Regions from separate parts of the Homo sapiens genome. Here region 1 is linked to region 2. Evidence: fine-mapped expression QTL. A gene starts in region 2. The other region holds a variant in brackets. All regions are shown on one strand. Distances are between the middles of the regions. Region 1 has its middle 100 kb from the start of GDAP2. Region 2 holds the start of WDR3 (WD repeat domain 3).

Region 1 (5,383 bases), 100 kb before region 2:
GCACACCTTTCTCTAGTGTTACAGAATGAAACTGTTGTATGCGTGTTAGGTACATGGGGAATTCTCCTGCCACTAAGTGGGAACCTCTGGTAGAGATGCTAGGTATTCAGTCCGCTACTACTTCTCAGTTTTCTCCTCAGAAAGTAAATCAAGAGGGCCATGTTTCCCATAGCCCAGTGGGAAGACAAAAACAGTTTGAAATACACCTAAGATCTAATCCTGGGGCAGCTCTGGGGCCAGGTAGCTCAAGGGTTTGGGTCAAAGCTCACAACCACACAGGGAAGACCTAGTGTTTCTTCCCTACAAAATGATGAGAGATAGAATGGGAAGATGGGGTGCAGGAACAAAATCCCAACTCCATCCAGTCTCCCCAGATGGTCTTGCAACAGGCTTGAAATACCTGGCCTGTTGCCCTGGCCGGTTCCAAACCCCTGAGGCAGGCTCTGTGGGAAGCAGCCTTTGTCCCCTACAACCTTAGGAAAGCTACTTTTCCCATCTGAACTGACCCTCTGAGTATGCTTTCAGCGTTTCCCTTAGTCTGTCCCCAGGACCAGTGATTGCAGAGCATGCTACCTAAGTGTTGGTGCCACAGGGATTCAGCTATTCTCACAGGGAGCCAGCAAAAGCCTCACTGACCAGATGTCTGACTCCAAACTCCTTTTTATCCTGCTCAGATCTGGACAGATGAAGTTTTCAGGTACCCAGTGGCAAAACAGTGGTCTCCCCATGGCTAGTCCCTTCTGTGTGAGATGTTTCCTTTAGGGAAATCATTAAATGATGCTGCCGGGAAAGTAAATTGCCTAAGGTCACCATGAGCCAGGAGTTGGCCCTCAGGTTTGCTGGGTTGGGAACTTAATTCCTTAAGTTCCTCAGAGATAAGAAGGCTATGGGGAGCTGATTCTCTAAGTAAGAGCCTGATTGACAAATGAATACAGACTTATCAATGAGGGTATCAGGTAGGATCATAAGTGCCCAACCTTTTCTGAGAGTGCCCCTGAGGATAAATAATCTTACTTGGGATGCTGAAATATAAAGGAGATTTTCTTGATGTAGACAAAAGCAGAGCAAAGTTTCAAGAGTGTTCTTGTTTATAAGGCTATTTCATCATTCTAGAGTAGCTGGATTCACTGCCTTTCTGCGCTCTGGAGACGTTTCTGAATAAAAAGTACTGGTTCTCAGAATTTGAGGGCTCTCACCCTGGCACAGTGCTTGAGGTCACCCACCAGTTTAGAGAGTATTTATGCAGACCATCTGTGATGCCAGATATAATAGGGCACAATTGGGTAGATGACAACTTCTTTTATAAGCTAGGGCTTTCTAATTTTTTGTAAATAATGCACTCATGCAACAATATGTGTATGAATTGACAGAAGGATTCTAGCCATCCCAGGTCCTGTTCTGCCACCCTGAGATCTACAGGAAGTAAAAATCCCCACACATCTGTGACTCATTGTTGCTCATCAGTTGGCCCTGACAGATCTGTTGGAAAGCTCTGGCACATACCATCATCTTCTTTACTAGATTTTGGAGCATTTAGCAGAGATGATAAATATTTTAGTCTTATGAGCAACACATTTTCTCTTAGGATCAGATTCTTTTGATATCGTGTCTTGGGGTTTTCTGTCTCTACTTTCAGCAGGTGATTTTTTCTGACCCTGCCCCAACCATCCCAAATCTGGAATGCCTTCTGTGGACAATACTTTCATATTGTGTCCAGATCCCCACTTCAGGGCTGAGGCACAAGCCTCCAGCTGCTGATGGCTCACAGCTGTGTCCCTTCCTAGGCAATGACCTTGGCAGAGAACTATCTGGCTCCAGACTAAGGCCCCTCCCAGGCATGGCTCAATAGCCAATGACTGCCTGATGCAGAGATACAATGGTTGGGCCCTTGGCTTTAGTAGGAGACAATTCTGAAGGCTCATCTCAGCTCCAGCACTCCCTGTAGCATTGGTAAGGCCTCAGTTACAACATATGAAGGGTCAATTTCTCCCCCACCTATCCTTGTAAGTGCATCTCTGGAAACATACCCAATAAACCTTCTGCATGCTAGTCTCTGTCACCAAGTCTGCTTTCAGGGAACCCAACCTAAGCCACATTCTCTTTGAGATCTCTTGAGCATTTCAGTGTCATATACTTTCTACACTATAAAATGACCAGATTTATGTAAACACATGGAGTAAATTGTTAAAAGTTAATGGGAAAGTGAACAGCTAAAACTTCTGGGAAAAATATAATTCAAAAGAAAAATCTGAGTCTTCCTTTGGGAAGGGAGGGAGAACCCAGAGACCAAAAGGTGACCTGTCCTCTGTGTCTTCTAGGACAAGTCACCTTCTCTCTCTGTGGCCTTCCTTTCTCCATCCATCATGTGATCAGGTGCATACCTAATTCCTCTACTCAGACTTTCTGTGGCTCCACATTTCTCTGTTTCTCTAATGCAGTGGTTCTCAAACTTGAGTGTATATCAAAACCTCTTTAAAGGCATTTTAAAACACAGATTTCTGTGCCCCACCTTCAGAGTTTATCATTCAGTAGGTCAGGAATGCTGCCCTAGAATTTGTATCTCTAACAGGTGCTAGGAGACGCAGATGGCAGTGCTGTTAGTCTGGGGTCCACACTTTGAAAACCATCGTTCTGGTGGTGTCTAAGAGCTGTTTGTTCTCTCTGATGGAAGAAGGACCATTTCACAAGTTATAATAGCAGTGGTATTATTACTCAGGAACTTTAAACAGTTAATTCAGCTTCTTTATTTGCTTAGGGAGAAACTCTCTGTTAAGAAAAGTTTTCCCAGCCCAGTTGAAACCTAACTATCTAAAGCTAAATCTTATATGAAAAAGAGGTCAGTTTTTCCAGAGGAGGTTGTGAAGATTATAAACCACATAGATTTTGATTAACGGCACACTCTTCAAAGCAGAAGAAAGGAGGGAGGAAAAAAAGTGTCTTTTGGAGAGTGTCTTTCTTGAAGACCCTTGCCACCTGAACATGATCTGGATACTGACAGGGTCTGATATGAGCCTCACTTGTGTGAAAGATCTCAGCCTCCAGCCCCTGGGGACTCTGGGAGCTGTGCTATAGCCTTTAAGGCATGCTCACTGCCAGCAAAAGTCATCCACACAGGGCTGCACTGCTGGAAGCACTTTCCCTTCTCTGGCCCCAGGCCTCACCACCCAGTGTGTTTTTACTGGACATCGCTGAGGTCTGAGAGCCCAGGCGTCAGGGCACTTCCCTCTTAGGAGTGTAGTGTCTGGGATGCTGAGCCCAGGCCTGCCAGTTCCCATGCTCGCCTCCAGGCCATGACGTAGTCCTGCTGGCTGGAGGAAGGCAGGCTTTGCCTGT[TCTCA/T]CTGAGTGTGTGGTTGGATGATGCCCTGGACTGTCCTCTGAAAGCACTTGGACACTGCATGGGATCAAGAAAATCTTTAAATAATTCTTCCCCTTTGTACCAAAGGCAGTTTACCCACCTTTAAAGCATCAGAGGATTTCAGGACTCAGAGGGATCTTGAGAGACCATCCAGTCAAGCTCTTTCTCTTTAATGATCATGAAGCCCTGTTCTTCATAATGATGTTAACATTTCAAGTGTATGAAGTTTACAGAGTACTTTCATATATATCATATTTTTCTTACATGGTCCATTGAATCTGTTAGAAAGCCCTGTTGACTTTTCCTAAAAAATATGCCCTATAGATCTGCCATTTCTCTTCATCCTTTCTGCTATACCCTAGCCACCATAATCTCTTGCCTGGACACAGCGCTGGCCTCCAGACATGTTTCTTCTCTTGTTCCCTGGCTCCCCCACTGTCTTAGTCCACTTAGGCTACTAAAACAAAACACCATATACTGGGTGGCTTATAAATAGCAGAAATTTGTTTCTTACAGTTCTGAAGGCTGGGAAGTCCAAGATTAAGATGCCAGCAGAAACAGTGCCCCATTTCCTGGTTCACAGAGAGCACCTTCTGTCTGTGTCCTTACATGGTGAAAGAACAAGGCAAGCTGGACATGGTGGCTCACACCTGCAATCCCAGCACTTTGGGATGCTGATGTGGGAGGATCACTTGAACCCAGAAGGTCCAGATCAGCCTGGGTAATATGATGACACCTCATCTTTATTAAAAAAGAAATAAAAAATGAGAGAGGAAGGCAGTCCTCTGGAGCCTCTTTTATAAGGGTACAAATTCCATTCATCAGGGTTCCTGACCTAATCACCTCCCAAAGGCTCTCCATCCTAACACCATCACATTGGACGTTAAGATTTTCATATGAACTTTGGGGGGACACAGACATTCAGACCATAGGACCACCCCACTATCCCTTTTCCACATAGCAACCAGAAGGATGTTTTCAAAATATAAATCAGTGGCAGTTGCACAACATTATGAATGCACTAAATGTCACTGAAAATGTTTACGTCAAAATGGTTAATTTTATGTTATGTAAATTTCACTTCAATTTAAGATATCTATGTCTGAAATGGTTTAGTTATTTGTCCTACCTATAGTCTAAATTACATGTTGAAATATAATCTCCAATGTTGGAAGGGGGGCCTAGTGGGAGGTAATTGGATCATGGGGGCAGATCCCTCATGCCTTGGTGCTGTCCTCACAATAGTGAGTACTTGTGAGATTTGATTTTTTAAAAGTGTGTGTCACCTCCTCCCTTCCCCTTGCTTCTGCTTTTGCCATGTAACGTGTGGGTTTCCACTTTGCCTTCTGCCATGAGTAAGAGCTCACTGAAGCCTCCCCAGAAGCTGAGCAGAAACCAGCACCATGCTTCCTATAAAGTGGAACTGTAAGCCAAATGAAACCTCTTTTCTTTATACATTACCCAGTCTCAGGGGTTGGTTGTTTTTCTCTTTTTACGTAGAGTTCATTTTGCCTTGTACCCGTCTCAGGTATTTCTTTTTGTTTGTTTGTTTTGAGATGGAGTCTCACTCTGTCACCCAGGCTGGAGTGCAGTGGCATGATCTCAACTCACTGCAACCTCCACCTTCTGGGTTCAAGTGATTCTCCTGCCTCAGCCTCCTGAATAGCTGGGATTATGGGCATGTGCCACCACACCCAGCTACTTTTTGTATTTTTAGTAGAGATGAGGTTTCACCACGTTGGCCAAACTGGTCTCGAACTCCTGACCTCAGGTGACCGCCTGCCTTGGCCTCCCAAAGTGCTGGGATTTCAGGTGTGAGCCACCATGCCCAGTCACAGGTATTTTTTATAGCAATGTAAGAACAGCCTAACATAGAAAATTTGTACCAGGAGTGGGGTCTTGCTATAAAGATAACTGATAATATGGAAGCACCTTTGGAACTGGGCAATGGGCAGAGGTTGGAAGAGTGTGGACGCTCAAAAGAAGACAGGAAGATGAGGGAAAGTTTGGAACATCTTTGAGACTGGT
Region 2 (5,383 bases):
AAACTTTTTTTCTGGATAGAAAGAAAATGATATCATTTAAGAGAGAAAAATGGTAACTTTTAACCTGTTTACCTGTCTTTCAAAATGCTTACATTGATCAGACCAGCCTGGATAACAACAGTACAAAGAGAGCTGGTGCATGCACTTGACCGCCATTAATTACCGGGTTTACCATTCTTTATGACTTTGTATTTCAATATTTAACAGTTCAGAGTACATGAGGATATGTGTGCATACCATACTTAAGAATCATTTTATGCCACCATCCAACACCATACTTAAGAATCATTTTATGCCATCAGAAAGACATTTTTTAAAAAAGATTTTCAGATTGGAAGACTAACTGAAGTAGTCAAATATGTCAACAATAAATACAGTATAACAAGAACATTCCTAAGCTTGTCAATGGCTTGGGTCAAATTTAACATCATAATTCAAAAGCACCCAAAGAACATATCCTAACAGTAAATTAGTAGTACCCCTTCATATTAAATGAACTGCACTATGTTTTAATTGTAAATATTGATATATTAGGCATTTTGAAACTTAAATAAGGAAGTAGAGTTACATCCTTGAAACATTGTATAAGGAATTTTGTAAGATGCATTACCTTACCACTCACAGTTGCTCTGATACCAACTCTTATTAAAATCATTTTTTTCCATCTGTGGTTGTCCCATCCCATAATATTTAATAATATTAAGATAGTTTTTTAAGAAAAGGTAAAATCATGACTCATTCAAATATAAAACCAAACCCGTGTTCAAGATTTTATTTAACTCAAAATGGAACCAGGCAGAGAAGATAAAGAAAATCCCAGAATTAGACACCTTAGAGCAGGAATATTGAAATAAATGTGCAAAAGGAGGCAAAACTTCCACTGAATCTCTGAGAGAATTCGCATGTCTTGACAATAATTATTTAGCATTGATGTCACTTACCTAGTTTACGTAACTGAAAAATAGCTTTTTTAGAATTAGTTATTCCAAGGGGTGTTAAGATAGAATCTAAACTATGTAGTTTTCCATTGAAGCACACACTTCTCCCCATAATAATATAATGCACAGCACCTGTCAGGGATATTAACCATACATACCCACTCAAATGCTCCCTTTCCCACCAAGCTTATTAAAATAATAGTTTGTGGCCACAATTTCTTCCCTTCTCATTTATCCAATACACAGCAATCTTGTTTCAAAACTCCTATGCTGCTACAGCTGTCCACAGTCTCATCATACGCATTCTTTGCTATTGCAATTTTCTTGAATATGGAAGATTAGCTGAACATGCATTAAGCTCAGGAAACTCTAAAGAAAATCAGATAATGTAGACAAAAGTCTAATTTCTAGGCTGGCTGCAGATACCTTGTTCAAGAAGCGCCGGCAGGATCTTCTTTTGTACAGCTATGTTAGCTTTAATTTTGCACAGCTCTAGACATCAGAACTCATTTCTAAACACTTCTATGCAGCTCAAGAATAAAAGTAGCAGAAATGCAAGAGAGAAAAGCTAATTCCCACTTGGTGAAAGAGCACTTAAGTCTCAGTGAGCAAACAAGGAGGAGTCAGCCTTGGTCACTTCCCCCTCAAGCGGCCAGAGAGCGGAAACACAAAGCCAGGCCAGTGTCACTCCAGGGATTGCGGGAACCTAGACAACGCACCATCCTGGGCTCAGCGTCTACCCACCCCTCACCCGAGGTGCTCTCGGTTCCGTAGAATGTCCAGTCCACAGGAACGGCAACACGGACTTGTCTTTGGGACTACAACCAGCAAGAGCTCCCGCCTGCCCCATTTCACCTGCACCCTAGGGCGCCCGCCTCCTTGGCTACAGCACCACTGTTCCTAGTGCCCGCCGACTGCCCACCCTTTCACTTCTCGTAGAGACGGCGTCCCCGACAACGCCTCGGGAAAGAACCTAACCAACATGCGAGGAAGTGGCGCCAGGCTCGTTCTTCAAGAGAAGTGACAGAACTAACCCTCAGCCTGCAATCCTGACCAGGGCCGAGTCCCGAGCGCCTCGGACCGCGCCCCCGGCCCTCTCCGCCCCGCCTTCCCTCCCGGCCTCAGTCCCTCCTCTCACAGCACTCTGGTGGTCCCATCCGGGCGGCGGGCGGCACGGATCAGGCTCCTGGTAGAAGGCGGCCGAGCGACATCTCCGGCGACCCTCAGCAGGAGCGCGCCGAGTACGGCGAGTCAAAGTCCCAGGAGACTGGAGTGACCAGCTGCAAATGCTCTGGGCTGCGAAACACCGGCTTCCGCTCCTGGCCAGAGCTCACCAATCAGCGCCCGGCTTTCTCCGTCATTTCCTCCTAGAAGGCAAAGGGAACCTCTGGCGGAAGAGGCTTCCGGAACGGACCCGGAAGGGGCAGGTCTTGTGGGCGGGTCCAATCGGCTGGGAGCCTCGTGGAGGCTGAGGTGAGTCCTGGAGGTGCGTGGTTGGGGCGGAGAGCATTATCTGCGGCTCCGATTTTGCAGATTCTGGCTGAGGCGTTCGTGATGTCAGCAGCAGCCGAGACGGGCGTGTTAAAGGCCGGTTGCTAGGGCTGGGGGAACTCAGGTAACTACGGGCGTCCCCACAGCAGTACTTGGAAGCCCCTCAGCTACTCGGCGCGGTTGCGGGTGCTGAGCAGAGCTGCCTGACCGTGCGTGTGCACGGGCTGGCCTGAGGATGATATGACCGTGTGTTCGGTGTGTGGAACCCTCCGTCACCCTCCCCTGACCGAAGACTCGTTTAGGAATGTGTGGCAGGTCTGTTGCCACGGTCCAGGCCTTCAGTGCATCTTGGAAACATCGTTTTGGGGGCTGTAGGTTAGGAAGCGGAGATCATGGGGTCTCGGAAGAAGGTTTGGTCGTGAACTGTCAGAAAGGAGGCGAAAGCTGTGCACGTGGAACAAAGTGAACAGTGCAAGTTGTATGGGAGGTAGTTTAAATATCGAGGCGATGAAAAAAGGCTGCTAGAATTGGGCTTACTCGAAAGGAAGTGGGCCTCAGAAGATAATATTAGTTAAAAGAAGTAGAGGAGAACATGGATGTTATTCTAAGTAAAACGAATAATATGAAGAATACAAGGTCGCGGGACGAGGAAGGAAACTAGCCAGCCTGACAGGAAGGTTTATTCGAGAAATACGGGGGTTAGATAGGATGAGTTTTTGGAAACTGGCAAACGATTTAGCCTTTTCAAGGCTTTAGGATAGGGAAAGCTCATTTGAAAAGATTAGTCGGTAGTATTATGACGTTTAAATGAAAAGAGTGAAAAACATGGAGGCGGAGGTGCTAGGTGGAAAATCAGTGCAGTAATCCAGTGATAAAGAGCTGGAACTGAAAGTGCTGGAGAGAAAGGGATCCTGTTTCAGAGTAACAGTCAGGTGGAATTGACTAAAGAGAAAGAGGCAAAGAGAAGCAGTTTAGCATAGTGGTTAAAAGCAGAAATTTTGGAGTTAGACTGGCTGGATTGGGATCTGGCTTTGGCAATTAGCTGCTAAATGACTTTGAGTTAGCAATTTGCCATCTCTGGGTCTGAGTTCCTTGTCTGTAAAATAGAGATAGGAAGAGTGACTTCCCTTGTGGTGTTATTGTGGAGAATTTGTTTATTTATTTTTAGAGACAGAGTCTCACTGTCACCCAGGCTGGAGTGCAGTGGCGTGATCATAGCTCACTGCAACCTCGAACTTCTGGACTCAAGTGATCTTTCTGCCTCAGCCTCCCCGAGTGCGTCACCATGCCTGGTTAATTTTTTAAAAAATGTTTTGTAGAGATAGGTTCTTGCTGTGTTGCCTATGTTGGTCTGAAACTCTTGACTCCTAGGCCTTGGCCTCCCAAAGTGCTGGCATTACAGGCATGAGCCACCATACCAGGTCCTTATGGATAATTTTTTTATGCTCATATTTACAATGTGCTAGAGGCTTTTCTAAGTGCTTTGCATATGTTAGCTCGGTTTCATTAATTGCTGTATGTAATTAAACAATTGCATAATGTTATCAGTTACTATAGCGTAAGCACTCTCTAAATCTTGGCTGCTATAATAATATTTTTTTATTAATAATTCAAAGGTTATTAAATGGTTTTGAGCCTGAAGAGCTGGGAAAATTGTGTCTTAGTGTCAGAAGAAAAGAGAGGGGTACCAGAAGTAAGGTAGGCTTGGTTATAGACATGTTAAATGTGAAACTATAAGGTATTCAAGTGGAGATGTTCAGTAAATATTGGAAACTCTATAATTAGTATTCATGTAGGTGGAAAGGACTGGAAATAGACAGATGGGAGTCCCTGGACCTAGGCATGCTATATGAATTCTCCAAGGAAAACACTGTAGAAGGAGGTGGTAGATGGCCAAAGACAGACAAACATAAGGAACAACTACAGAGTCTGGAGGAATAAGAGGAATTGGGAAAGAATTAATCAAATGGCCTAGGCTAAGAGCATTATCACCATGTTAATATTATCTTTCCTTGATTTTAAATTGGCTTTATGTTGGTTCCTGTGAGAGAAGCAATGAGGCCAGTAAGTGATTATTACCAGAAAATATTATCAGAGAGTTGAGATTGAATTTTTTTTGTGTTAGACTAAAACAGCATTTGATAATTAGAAAGACCCTGTAGAGTTAAGCCAACCAACCAAAGAAACAAAAAACAATAGCAAAAAGAAACAGCTCCTCATAAAAGACTGTAACTTCTTTATTTTTGTGTGTTTTAAGTTGCATGGGTGTTTTTTGGGGATACTTTTTACTCTTCCATGTAAAGAACAGATGGGACTGATTTGTTATCTCCTTCATTCACCTCTTGTCCCTTTTATAAATAACCAGTGGATTATGGATTTTCAGTGAATTTAATAAAAGTGCAGAAATTATGGCATCTTTCCAAAAATAGTGTGCCAAGTTGCTCAACCATTTTCTATGCCAAGGGTAAGTGGCTGCTCTGATTTTGAAATGAAGGACAGACTTTCATGTACTAGTAGTTCTCAAAGTGTGGTCCAAGAACTGCAATAGCAGCATCACTTGGAAACTTGTTAGAAATGAAAAATTCTAGGCCCTACCTCAGACTTATGAAATCAGAAACAGGTGCTGGGAGAAGAGATGAGATGGTGTTTTCTAGCAATGTTTTCATAAGCCCTCCAGGTGATTTGGATGTATACTAGAGTTAGAGAACCACTGTACAAGAAGGTAAGTACCATGAGGTTAGGGATTTTGCCTTGTTAATAGTGTATTTCCAGTGTCTAGAATGGTGCCTGTCTAATTGGTAGGTTTTCAATAGATATTCATTGAAAAATATGTTCAGTCTCAGACTGCCAATCTCTGTGTAAAAGCTTTGATGCTGGTTTAATGGGCAGAAGTAAATCAGTTTAGCTGCATTGAGCCTATAATGTCAGATATGCATGAGGTGGGCATGACAACG

What was found.
Region 1: its variant is fine-mapped to the expression of WDR3 in whole blood (INTERVAL, PIP 0.99).

What each region holds. Positions count from the first base shown.
Region 1 is chr1:117,825,180-117,830,562 of GRCh38, forward strand. No RefSeq gene overlaps it. Among named protein-coding and RNA genes, the nearest start is that of GDAP2, 100 kb to the right of the region's middle. The variant TCTCA/T (reference allele first, on the strand shown) is at 3,334.
Region 2 is chr1:117,927,372-117,932,754 of GRCh38, forward strand. WDR3 (WD repeat domain 3) reads left to right here and starts at 2,368. Exons shown (of 27, transcript NM_006784.3): 1 at 2,368-2,411. It overlaps GDAP2 (ganglioside induced differentiation associated protein 2), which reads right to left and starts at 2,250. Exons shown (of 14, transcript NM_017686.4): 1 at 2,077-2,250. RefSeq lists enhancers at 2,175-2,469, 2,351-2,520.